2 separate regions of the Homo sapiens genome follow, and region 1 is reported to be linked to region 2. The links are microRNA targets in miRTarBase. Many come from high-throughput screens and were not tested one by one. Region 2 holds a microRNA gene; the other region holds the end of a gene's coding sequence.
The links. Region 2 holds the annotated microRNA hsa-miR-6782-3p (CACCUUUGUGUCCCCAUCCUGCA, at 2,327-2,349, shown strand). A microRNA usually pairs through its seed, bases 2 to 8, with sites in the 3' UTR of a target mRNA and lowers its output. Matches are read on the target gene's strand: a 7mer-m8 pairs with bases 2 to 8, a 7mer-A1 pairs with bases 2 to 7 and ends in A, and an 8mer does both.

Region 1 (3,000 bases), not on the chromosome of region 2:
TACATTTTATCGAAACTCTCCATTAACTATAACTTCCTCTTGCCCAAGTCTAAAATGTTCAGGGAAGGTCCATGCCCTTTTTTCTCTTGCATTTTTCCTTCATAGGAAGTATGAGAAGATGCTTTTTCTCCACTCAGCTTGAATCATGCTTTTGGTTTTGTCTCTGACAGATGCAGCTGTCTTCTCCTCAGTGCTGGCGCTCTGACTACCCTTCCCAAAGAACCACGGCCCTCTCCCTTTACTGTTCTATAGCCCCAGAACTGGGAGATGGCTTCCTAAGTTGGCTATACCTTGTCCACTTCCAGTACTGGACGTGCTCAGGGTCTAGGGTCACAGATGGTGCTATTAATTGAACTGGAACACAGCAGAATTGTTGCAAAGGTTCTAGGAGCCAGATTCATTCCTTCTTCATTCTTTGCAAAACAGTGGTACAGACATGGAGTCTAGAATTGACCCAGATGGAAAGTAATTGGTATTCTTAATATCCTGGGTGACTAATATCCAGGCAGAGAAGCTCCTGGAACCATAACTGTAAGTTCCTAGCTGGCTAGGGATTGAAGTCCTGGACAGTGACAGAGGATACCACAGTAGTTCAAGACTTAGCACAAGTCACCAACTGCTTCAGGGATACCTGGAGGGGCCAGCAAGTAGAGTGTTGGTGGCCCAAGCAAACCAGTGTTGCCAATACCATTGCCAAAAGGGCCTTTGGATCCTGGACAAAGCTTGGCTGCCGGCTTCATTTATTCCTGCTGATGGCTGAGAAGCATCTGTCTTCCATCCCACTTGCCTGTCCCAAGTTTTGTTCCATTTTTTAAAAATTTGTTGTAAACTGCATGTTTTATAAAATAAAAATAAAATATCGTTTGTTATTTATCTCATTAGAGAACTGCTAGTGTGGGTTCTCTGGCTTCAGTCTTCCTCTCCTTCCTTTGAAGGTAAAGGTCCGGAATCCAAAGTTATGGATATGAAAGGGTATAATTAGGCCGGGCGCGGTGGCTCACTTCTGTAATCCTAGCACTTTGGGAGGCAGAGGTGGGTGGAACACGAGGTCAGGAGTTAAAGACCAGCCTGACCAAGATGGTGAAACCCCGTCTCTACTAAAAATACAAAAATTAGCTGGGAGTGGTGGATGGCGACTGTAACCCTAGCTGAGGCAGAAAATTGCTTCAACCCGGGAGGCGGAGGTTGCAGTGAGCCGAGATCACGCCACTGTATGCCAGCCTGGGCGATAGGGCGAGACTCCGTCTCAAAAAAAGGGGAAAAAGGTATAATTTATGCCTTTTCTGGGCAATGCTGGGTCTTTGCTATAGCTGCCCAGTACCCTAAGTCAGACTGAAGATGTACAGTATGGTTTCCGTTAATTGTGTAAGCCGACAAACTACAGGTCCCAGGATAGCTTGAGACTTGTAGTTGCTCACAAAGATGGGTCCGGTGCTGCGGTGCTTCCTGGGAGATGTAGTTTCCTGTGTATTGAAACCTGGACTGCTCGCTGGCCGGCAGCGCACCGTTTTGAAGGTCCTAGCCCACCTGGGCTGGCTCACGCGCACGACTAGCCGCTCCCATACAGCACGCCCGGACTCTGTCGTCGCTTAAGGCCACTCCTATTCTACGGCTGACCCCTGGTGGTCACGTGGATCTGTTCGCCACGCAAGTCTGGGTCCTTCGGCGATTGACCGGGGTCCTTGCTGTTCGGGAGCCTCTCCTAAGCTGCCTGTTCGCGCGAGAGTTTGGAGGGGCGGGTTTGGGGTCGGTGTCTGATTGGGGCTCGCACCGCAGCACGCTGGAGTCCCGCTTAGGTACCAGTTAGCGTCAGGGGAGCTGGGTCAGGCGGTCGCCGGGACACCCCGTGTGTGGCAGGCGGCGAAGCGCTCTGGAGAATCCCGGACAGCCCTGCTCCCTGCAGCCAGGTGTAGTTTCGGGAGCCACTGGGGCCAAAGTGAGAGTCCAGCGGTCTTCCAGCGCTTGGGCCACGGCGGCGGCCCTGGGAGCAGAGGTGGGACGGATGCGGGCGGCGAGGCGCTGGGCGCTGAGGGTTGGGGATGGACTGAAGCGAAAGCAATGGCGGAGTCCTTAGAAAGGGGGCTGGTGTCCGTACGGGTAATCACTTACGGGCTGGAGGTGGGGACGCAGGAATCTTCGGTGCAGGATCCAAATGGGCCCTAGTTATTGCTCTCCTCGCTGGCCTCCTGGCCTGACTGAGGGCTCCCTGCCGGCAGTTCCCTAGTGCCTGTAGTCCTCACGTAATCGCCAACTTACCTCCTGTAGCTGCCACAAAGCCCCGTGAACCCTAGGCATGCAGTGCTAAAGTACCAACACTTAGGGCCTCACCTATCCACGTAGAGTCTGGGGCTGAGCCGCAAGTCCTGAGCTCGCGCTCCCACCCACCACCCTGGGGGAATCAGAGCCCTCAAGCGCTGGAACAGAGAAGCCCCTTTGTGTCCCGGCCATTTCCTGGAAAGTAGAGCCAGAGTCACAATGAGGCCTTTGAAAGCCTTGGGGTGAGGATTGGGGGGGTCAGGGAAAAATGGAGTCGGCTCCTCACACTTATGTTTTATTCCCACTCAAACCCAGGTGGAGCGACCCCATTACGCTAAAGATGAAAGGCTGGGGTTGGCTGGCCCTGCTTCTGGGGGCCCTGCTGGGAACCGCCTGGGCTCGGAGGAGCCAGGATCTCCACTGTGGAGGTAAAGGCACAACGGGAAAAAGAAGTGGAGGAAGCAGAGCCTTGGGAGGGCATGAGATCCAAGGCCTGGGAGAAGGATGAATGGAAATCCTGGGTTGATCCCATTCTCCTCACACCCTACCCCCTACCCTGTCCCCTGCTCTCATTCTCTCCTCTTCCACCAGCATGCAGGGCTCTGGTGGATGAACTAGAATGGGAAATTGCCCAGGTGGACCCCAAGAAGACCATTCAGATGGGATCTTTCCGGATCAATCCAGATGGCAGCCAGTCAGTGGTGGAGGTAACTGTTACTGTTCCCCCAAACAAAGTAGCTCACT
Region 2 (7,652 bases):
GGAATGGGGCTGGGGCCACCCCATTCATTGAAAGCTCGGGAACTCCCCTTTGGTTGGGCAGCTCTGAGCAAGAAGTCCCAGCCTTGGTCTGTGACTCTCAGCAAGTCTCAGCTTCCTTCTCTGAACCTCTGTCTCTCATCAGTAAGGTGGGGGTGACATTGCTAACCTCCAGGCTGACTCGGAGGATGCGAGCAGTTGTGAAAGCACTTGTAAACTGTGGTGCCTGCCTCAGACGTGAGCTGTTAGGAAGTTGCTCACTAGCTACCTGTTTCTCCTCCTCCCTGGCACAGAAAAAGACAGCCAGCTAAGGTGCTGATGGCATGAGGCAGAAGGCAGCAGTATTTTGGGGGTGGGACTGGGGGGTGAGCGTGACCTTTCTCCCTCCAGAGAGAGCTGAGTGAGATGCGGGCACCTCCAGCTGCTACAAATTCTTCCAAGAAGATGAAATTCCAGGGAGAACCCAAGAAGCCTCCCATGTGAGCCTGGGGGTTGGAGTCTGCCCTGGAGGTCGGGGAGGGTCAGGGCTGGATGGCTGCTTTGTTGGGGTCCTGACCCTCCTTCTACCAACCCACCTCCCAGGAACGGTTACCAGAAGTTCTCCCAGGAGCTGCTGTCCAATGGGGAGCTGAACCACCTGCCGCTGAAGGAGCGCATGGTGGAGATCGGCAGTCGCTGGCAGCGCATCTCCCAGAGCCAGAAGGAGCACTACAAAAAGCTGGCCGAGGAGCAGCAAAAGCAGTACAAGGTGCACCTGGACCTCTGGGTTAAGGTGAGAGGGCAAGGGACCCTTGGAAGGAACAGAGAGGCATCAGACTAAGCCAGCACCATCCTAGCCTGGCCCATCCACCCACTTGTGCTGGCTGGTCTCATTCATGATTTCATTCCATGCCCTCGCAATCCTTCAGGATAACGGTCACTATCACCCTTTTATTTTTATTTTTTTTTTTATTTTTTGAGACAGTCTTGCTCTCCTGCCCAGGCTGGAGTACAGTGGTGTAGTCTCGGCTCACTGCAACCTCCACCTCCCAGGTTCAAGCGATTCTCCTTCCACAGCCTCCAGAGTAGCTGGGGCTACAGACATGTACCACCACACCTGGCTAATTTTTGTATTTTTAGTAGAGATGGGCAGGCTGGTCTCGAACTCCTGACCTCATGTGATCCGCCCACCTCGGCCTCCCAAAGCACTGGGACTACAGGCTTGAGCCACCGTCCGCAGCCACTATCACCCTTTTAAAAATAAGGAAACCAAGGCTCAGAGAGGTTAAGTAACTTGCCCAAGGTCACACAGTAAGTAGAAGAATCCAAATCAGACTGCCTTTTCCTCCCCCATCTGGGACCACGGGACCTCTCCTAGACTCCTGGCCTTTGTGCTTCCCCTCTGTGCTTTGGTTGAGTAGTCAGATCTGTAAAGTGGAGAGAATCACCTGTGTCCTTCCCACTCACCAAGGCAGGTTGGCCAAGGACCCAGGAAGACTGTGGGGATTTGCTGTTTCAGGAGTTTGGTGAGCCCCACTGCCTCATCGATGGCTCAAGGGTTTGGTGTTGGGGTGTGGTTGATGATGCCAGGCTGACTCATCACGGGGGCACTTCTTTGGAGTGAGGAAGACTCTGATAGGAGCTTCCATTTGCGAAAAGCAACAGGGAAAATGTGAAAACCAATAGTCTTAGTGGTTTAGAGAAGGACTCTGGGTATCAGAAGCAGAAATACTAGGGTTTGGGCCAGCGCAGTGGCTCACGCCTGTAATCCTAGCACTTTGGGAGCCCAAGGTATGAAGGATCACTTGAGGCCAGGAGTTCAAGACCATCCTGGGCAACATAGTGAGATTGCTGTCTCTACAAAAAATTATAAGGTAGCATGGTGTGGTGGCACATGCCTGTAGTCCCAGCTACTCTGGAGGCTGAGTTGGAAGGATCACTTGAGCCTGGGAAGGTCAAGGCTGCAGTGAGCTGAGATTGTGCCACTGCACTCCAGCCTGGGTGACAGAGCAAGACCCTGTTTCAAAAAAAAAAAAAAAAAAAAAAAAAAAATTAGAGCTGTGTTCTCAGATCCCAGGGGCTCTCTGCAGAGACCCAAAATCTAGGGAGCCTGGGAGGGGTAAGATGGGGTGATGATATATAAATGCTCAGCCCACTGCCTAGCACTGGGCCAGCATGCTCAGTCAGCAGTAGTTGGCTATGTTCCAACCCTTGCCGCTTCTGTCTCCCCCAGAGCCTGTCTCCCCAGGACCGTGCAGCATATAAAGAGTACATCTCCAATGTGAGTCTGGGAGCAGAGCAGCAGTGGGGTAGGGGTGGGGGAATTCAGGGGTGTCGAACTCATGGCTGCCACCTTTGTGTCCCCATCCTGCAGAAACGTAAGAGCATGACCAAGCTGCGAGGCCCAAACCCCAAATCCAGCCGGACTACTCTGCAGTCCAAGTCGGTAAGGAGCCCCTCCCAGATGCAGGGGCGTGGGGCGGGGGGCACTGCCTGGAATGGTTGGGCAGAGACCAGAGACCACTGATGTGCCTCCATCCCTCCAAGGAGTCCGAGGAGGATGATGAAGAGGATGAGGATGACGAGGACGAGGATGAAGAAGAGGAAGATGATGAGAATGGGGACTCCTCTGAAGATGGCGGCGACTCCTCTGAGTCCAGCAGCGAGGACGAGAGCGAGGATGGGGATGAGGTGGGGCAGACAGGGCACAGTGGGAGGGGAGGGGAGTCCTGCCAGGAGGGCCACCTGGTGACTCCACATCCTTTCTCACCCCCCAGAATGAAGAGGATGACGAGGACGAAGACGACGACGAGGATGACGATGAGGATGAAGATAATGAGTCCGAGGGCAGCAGCTCCAGCTCCTCCTCCTCAGGGGACTCCTCAGACTCTGACTCCAACTGAGGCTCAGCCCCACCCCAGGGCAGCCAGGGAGAGCCCAGGAGCTCCCCTCCCCAACTGACCACCTTTGTTTCTCCCCCATGTTCTGTCCCTTGCCCCCCTGGCCTCCCCCACTTTCTTTCTTTCTTTAAAAAAAAAAAAAAATACGGTGGGGGTAGGGGGCTGGAGGAGCCCAGGCCAGGACTCTGCAGCCTCAGAGACATCAGCCCTTGGGGGTCCTCCTCCAGGGACAGCAACTATCAGACTAAGCCAGCACCGGACCAGCCTGGCCCACCCCACCCACTTCTGCACTTGCGGTTCCGGCATGGACAATGGACCGGAGAGTGGGGGTGGGGGGTCCCAAAGAGTTTGATGAGGCCCTCCACACCTGCGGCCCAATCCAAGGTGGGGTGGAAGCTTGGGGAAGACCCATTCCTTCCCAGAGGGGCCTGCCACCTGGACCCCTGCATTGGAACTGGAGGCAGGGAACATGGGGAGGAGGAGGGTCGGTGCCTTCAAGAAAACAGGCACTGCCCTGGTGGCCCTCTCCCCTGCCCCCTGCAGGAAGGAGCTGCCTGGACCCGTTCATGGGGGAGGGGGCAGAAGTGTTTTTTATATATGTGTATATATTTTTTTTTAAGCTCTGAGCTGTCAACGAGACGTTTCCTACCGATCTCGGCTGCCGTCTCTGTTGTCATTTCTGGGAGAGGGAGGGTTTAGGGGTAGATTTGGAACCTTTTAAAAATGGTCTTGATGTATGTGGAAGAGAGTATGTGTATGTGTGTTCCTGTACATAGCATGGGTGCAGCTGTGGATGTGTGCAAAAGAGTGTGAGTGTGTGTGTGTGTGTGTAAAGGGGTCTGTCCTAGAGCCCACATCAGTTTGTTGTGAATCTGGAAAAAGGGTCGGTGAGGGCCGGGAGATGTTGACCCTGGTGGGAGCAGGCTGAGGCTGCCCCGTTCTCCACATCCTCTGTTTTGCCCAGTCTCTGATTCCATTAGGGGGAGTGTGCTGAAGCCATTCTCGGATGCTTCCCAGACCAGGCTCCCTCTGCCAGAGTCACATGCATCCGAGCTGCTGGTCTCCATTGTCCAGCAGGAAGGCGGAAAGGCAGGCAAGATGGTGTGAAGCTTAAAGCTTGTATTTGATGGAAAAGGTCTCCCCTGTTCATCTGAGAGGCCAAGCCTGGCCACCCCAGGCTCAGAACCTGGGCTTCAAGAAATGTGCTGGGAGCTCCTAACTTACACATCCCTCCAGCCTTCCTTGAATCCTCCCACCACCCCCTATTTCCTTTAATTTCTCAGGTCTGCTCCCTCCTCCCCCAACCCCACAGCTGGGCAAGAAGTCTGCAAAAGCTGCATCTGCAGCTGTCTCTAACTCTTCCCAGCCATCTCCCGTATTTTTTGGTACCTTGATTCCTTGACTCTTAATAAGCCAAGCCACCTTATCTCTGTAGTTCTTATTTTTTTGTTGACTAAATTTGGGGGGTTCTTTTTTATGGTCATGTCACTGACCTATTAAATTGGGGCTTGGTGCTTTTCCACCTTCCCCCTCTGAATGAAAGCCAAGGAATGGGGGAAGAGCGGGAACTCTGCCGCGGAGGTGGAGCAAGAACGGTGAAGGGCCCTGGTCCCAGAGAGGCTGGTGGGTCCCTCTCCCAAAGGAAGGCAGACAGTCTCTGCTTTGCCTTGGACCTTGGTGCTGGGGGTGGGGAGGCCTGGGGGGGACACTCCCCACTCCCATTCCCCTTCCTTTGTCCTAATCCTGGAATTAAGTACAGGGGTTTATAGGTTCTATTTCTTCCCAAGAGCCCTGCAAAGAACCCCAGTTTCCTATTTGGATGCCCCTACACTGTTGTGTTTCAGTGGAATGTATTTTCATTTAAAAACAACTTTGAATGGGGCACTTTTTCTTTCCTGTTTTAAAAATTGAAAAATTCTTACAGTACAAACAGGACTGTCAGGGTGGGGGTGTTGGTGCTGTAAGAGGTCACTCTTGAGTGCATTTTGGCACTGGGATGGGATGGCTGGGGTGGGAAGACCCCCATCCCCACCCCCAACTTCTTTTCTAATATTTAAGGAGTGTTTTGTAGGATTCAACAACCACCACAACTTGAATTTGTATCATGGGAGGTGGGAGGGAGTGGCTTAGAGGTGTCTGCCTATGCTTAAAGCCAACTGTGGAAGTTTTGTTTTCCCTTTTTTGTATAATAAAGTGAAAAACAAAGGTTTGACTGCTGTCTGGTCACTGGAATCAATGAAGGTTCACAGGGGTGACCCAACAGGTTTGATCTATAAAAATGCTTGAAGCCAATTTGCCTTTTCTTCCTAGAACTATCTTCCTCTTCCCTAAAGATTCCATAGGCAACCTACCTTCACATTGTTCTGTGCTACTGTTCTTGCCCTTTTCTCAATTCCATTTGTTCACCTTGGGTTGTGAGACCACTAAAGATTCTGAGAAGTTGGAGAACAAATGCATTTTCACCCAAAGTACATGGTCTTGGGGAATTGGAGGTGATGAGCTACTAGGGTCAAGGGTTCGCCCTGGGCATGCAAGCCTTCCTAGTGTAGGGCTTATCGTGGGGAGTTGAGGGAGCACGCTCTCACTTTGAGCCTTCAGCTCCATCCCAGGTTAAAGGTTAAGGGTTAAGGATGACTTTCCTAGGACCATCTAGGCCTCTGATGGGAAGCAGGCTGGGCTGGGCTGAGATGACTCACTCTCTGAGATTAAGGGAAGACACCCTTTCCTGCGCAGGCCTTGGCTGGGTTCCTGGAACCTCAAAGGGCTGCAGACCCAGGTCCTGTCGGAGAACTCTCTCCCAGCCCTTGCCCCTATCCTATAGTGGCCAAACTGCTAAAAAGCTTGTTGTGCCTCTTGGCCTCCCACTTACCACCATCCTTTGAGGTTCCTTGCTAAGGTCACCAACATGTTCATTACATCTGGTGAACACTTGTCTTGTCTTTTGCCTTCTTGGTCTACTCTGTTGGTGTCAGCTCTTCCTCATTTTATCCCAGGTGTTCATGTCTCTCCCTTCAACCTCCCATTATCACGCATATGCAACCATTCCGAAAGGTGGTGCCGACAGAGACTGCTCTTCCAAGCTGCAGACCTGTGTAGACACCCTTGCATCCCCTGGGATATCTTGCAGACATCTCATACCTCAAGACCCGAAATGATTACCAAACACTTAGTCGTTCAACCTAGAAAGCAGAGTATTGGCCTTGACTCCTCTCTCCCTTTCACCTCGAGGTTCAATCACCTAGACCTCTCCATTCCACTTCCTAAAGCTGTCTCAAATCTGTCGACCCCTCCCACAGGGTGGCTCCCACAGCTGCCACTCCCATCCTATTTCAGGCCACCATCATTGCTCAACTTCTGCAAAGACCTCCTAAAGCTGGTCTTCCTGCTTCCACTCTCGCCCCCTACAGCCCATTCTTCACATGGCAGCCAAAATTATCTCAGAAATAAATCTGATTATTTCTGTACTGAAAATTTACCATGTCTTACCATGGCCCTACAAGGCTTGGCCCCCGCATTCCTTCTCTTATCTTCTCTCACCCTGCTCTTCCTAACCACTTACAACGATCCAACCAAGTGATCTCTTCTGTTCCTCAAACATGCCTACCTGCGGGGTCTTGGCACCTGTTCTCTCTGCCTAGAATGGCTATTCCTCCAACTCTACACATACCTGATTTTTTTTTTTCATTCTTTAAGCCTCAACTCACATGTCCTCTCACAGAGAAGCCTTTCCCAACCACCTGCTCTAGAGAGGCCTCCTCCATCTTCTTGTTTATGTATTTGTTTATTATCTATCTCCCCAAGTAGAAGACACCTTATCTGCTTGTTCATTACAGTAATCTCAGCACCTGAAACTGCCTGATATACATTTGACAATCAAGAAAGATTTGCTGAGTGGGTGAATAGGTCTGGCCCACAAGGCCCTTGGGGATCTGCTGCCCCCGTTAGCCCTCCCCCGACTCTAGCCACACTGACCATTCATGTCTCGAACATAACATGCTCTCTCCTAGGGCCTATACACATGGTGTTCTCTCTGCCTAGTTAATTCTGGTCTCCACTTAAAAGACCACTTCCTTCCCTGAACTCCTGAGAAAAAAGGTCTCCACACTATACGTTTCTTCAGCAGCCTGAATGCCTTCACACTCAGGCCTTATTTCCTTCACATCAGGCCTTGCTAGGCTGTAAGCTGCGCTAGGACAAGGTTTGTGTGTCTCTCTTGCTTGTTGCTGTAACCCCAGGGCCTCACCCAGAGTCAGGACCAGCTCAGGCCTTAGTGTTTATGAACTGGTGCTAACTGTGGAGACTGGGCACGTGCCCAAAGAGGTCACCACCACAGAGCAGCCCAGGCCAAGCACAGAATGAATAGTACAGTCTAGTTGTAAAGAAGTTTGGTATGAGGATGGCCATGGGTGGGGATATGAGGAAGGATTTAGGTAAACAGGGAGAAGCCAGGAGGATTTTCTGGCCATGGCGCAAATTCCTTAGGGCAGAATGTACTGGGCATATTTAGGTAAGAAACAGATCAGCATCACTGGAGTGAAGAATTCCTGAAAAGGAGGCGGGAGATAAGAGAAAACAAAGGTTGAGGCGATGTTGTTGAAGTTCCTGAAGACCTAGCTTACTTCTCTGTGCCAGACCTGAGTTCAACCACCTTTTGGGTCTCCATCAGCTGATCCCACAGTAACCTCAATATATCCCAGACTGAAGTCATCCTGTGTCCTCCCATGTCCTCCCCTGAGTTCCCCATCCTAGTAAAGGTGTTTTCAAGACCTCCCTCTC

Region 1: miRTarBase lists PAN2 as a target of hsa-miR-6782-3p. Seed matches in the 3' UTR shown: 7mer-m8 at 377-383.

What each region holds. Positions count from the first base shown.
Region 1 is chr12:56,314,814-56,317,813 of GRCh38, reverse strand. PAN2 (poly(A) specific ribonuclease subunit PAN2) reads left to right here. Exons shown (of 26, transcript NM_014871.6): 26 at 171-878. The coding sequence ends at 205. CNPY2 (canopy FGF signaling regulator 2) reads left to right here and starts at 1,826. Exons shown (of 6, transcript NM_014255.7): 1 at 1,826-1,993; 2 at 2,572-2,684; 3 at 2,848-2,963. The coding sequence starts at 2,597. RefSeq lists enhancers at 1,473-1,622, 1,703-1,752, 1,253-1,841.
Region 2 is chr17:44,202,469-44,210,120 of GRCh38, reverse strand. It overlaps MIR6782 (microRNA 6782), which reads left to right and starts at 2,282; the gene lies at 2,282-2,350. UBTF (upstream binding transcription factor) reads left to right here. Exons shown (of 21, transcript NM_014233.4): 16 at 388-476; 17 at 580-769; 18 at 2,210-2,257; 19 at 2,351-2,422; 20 at 2,524-2,667; 21 at 2,754-5,081. The coding sequence ends at 2,879. The region is part of intron 1 of ATXN7L3-AS1 (ATXN7L3 antisense RNA 1); the gene reads right to left. RefSeq lists a silencer at 174-223 and enhancers at 817-2,016, 2,658-3,158.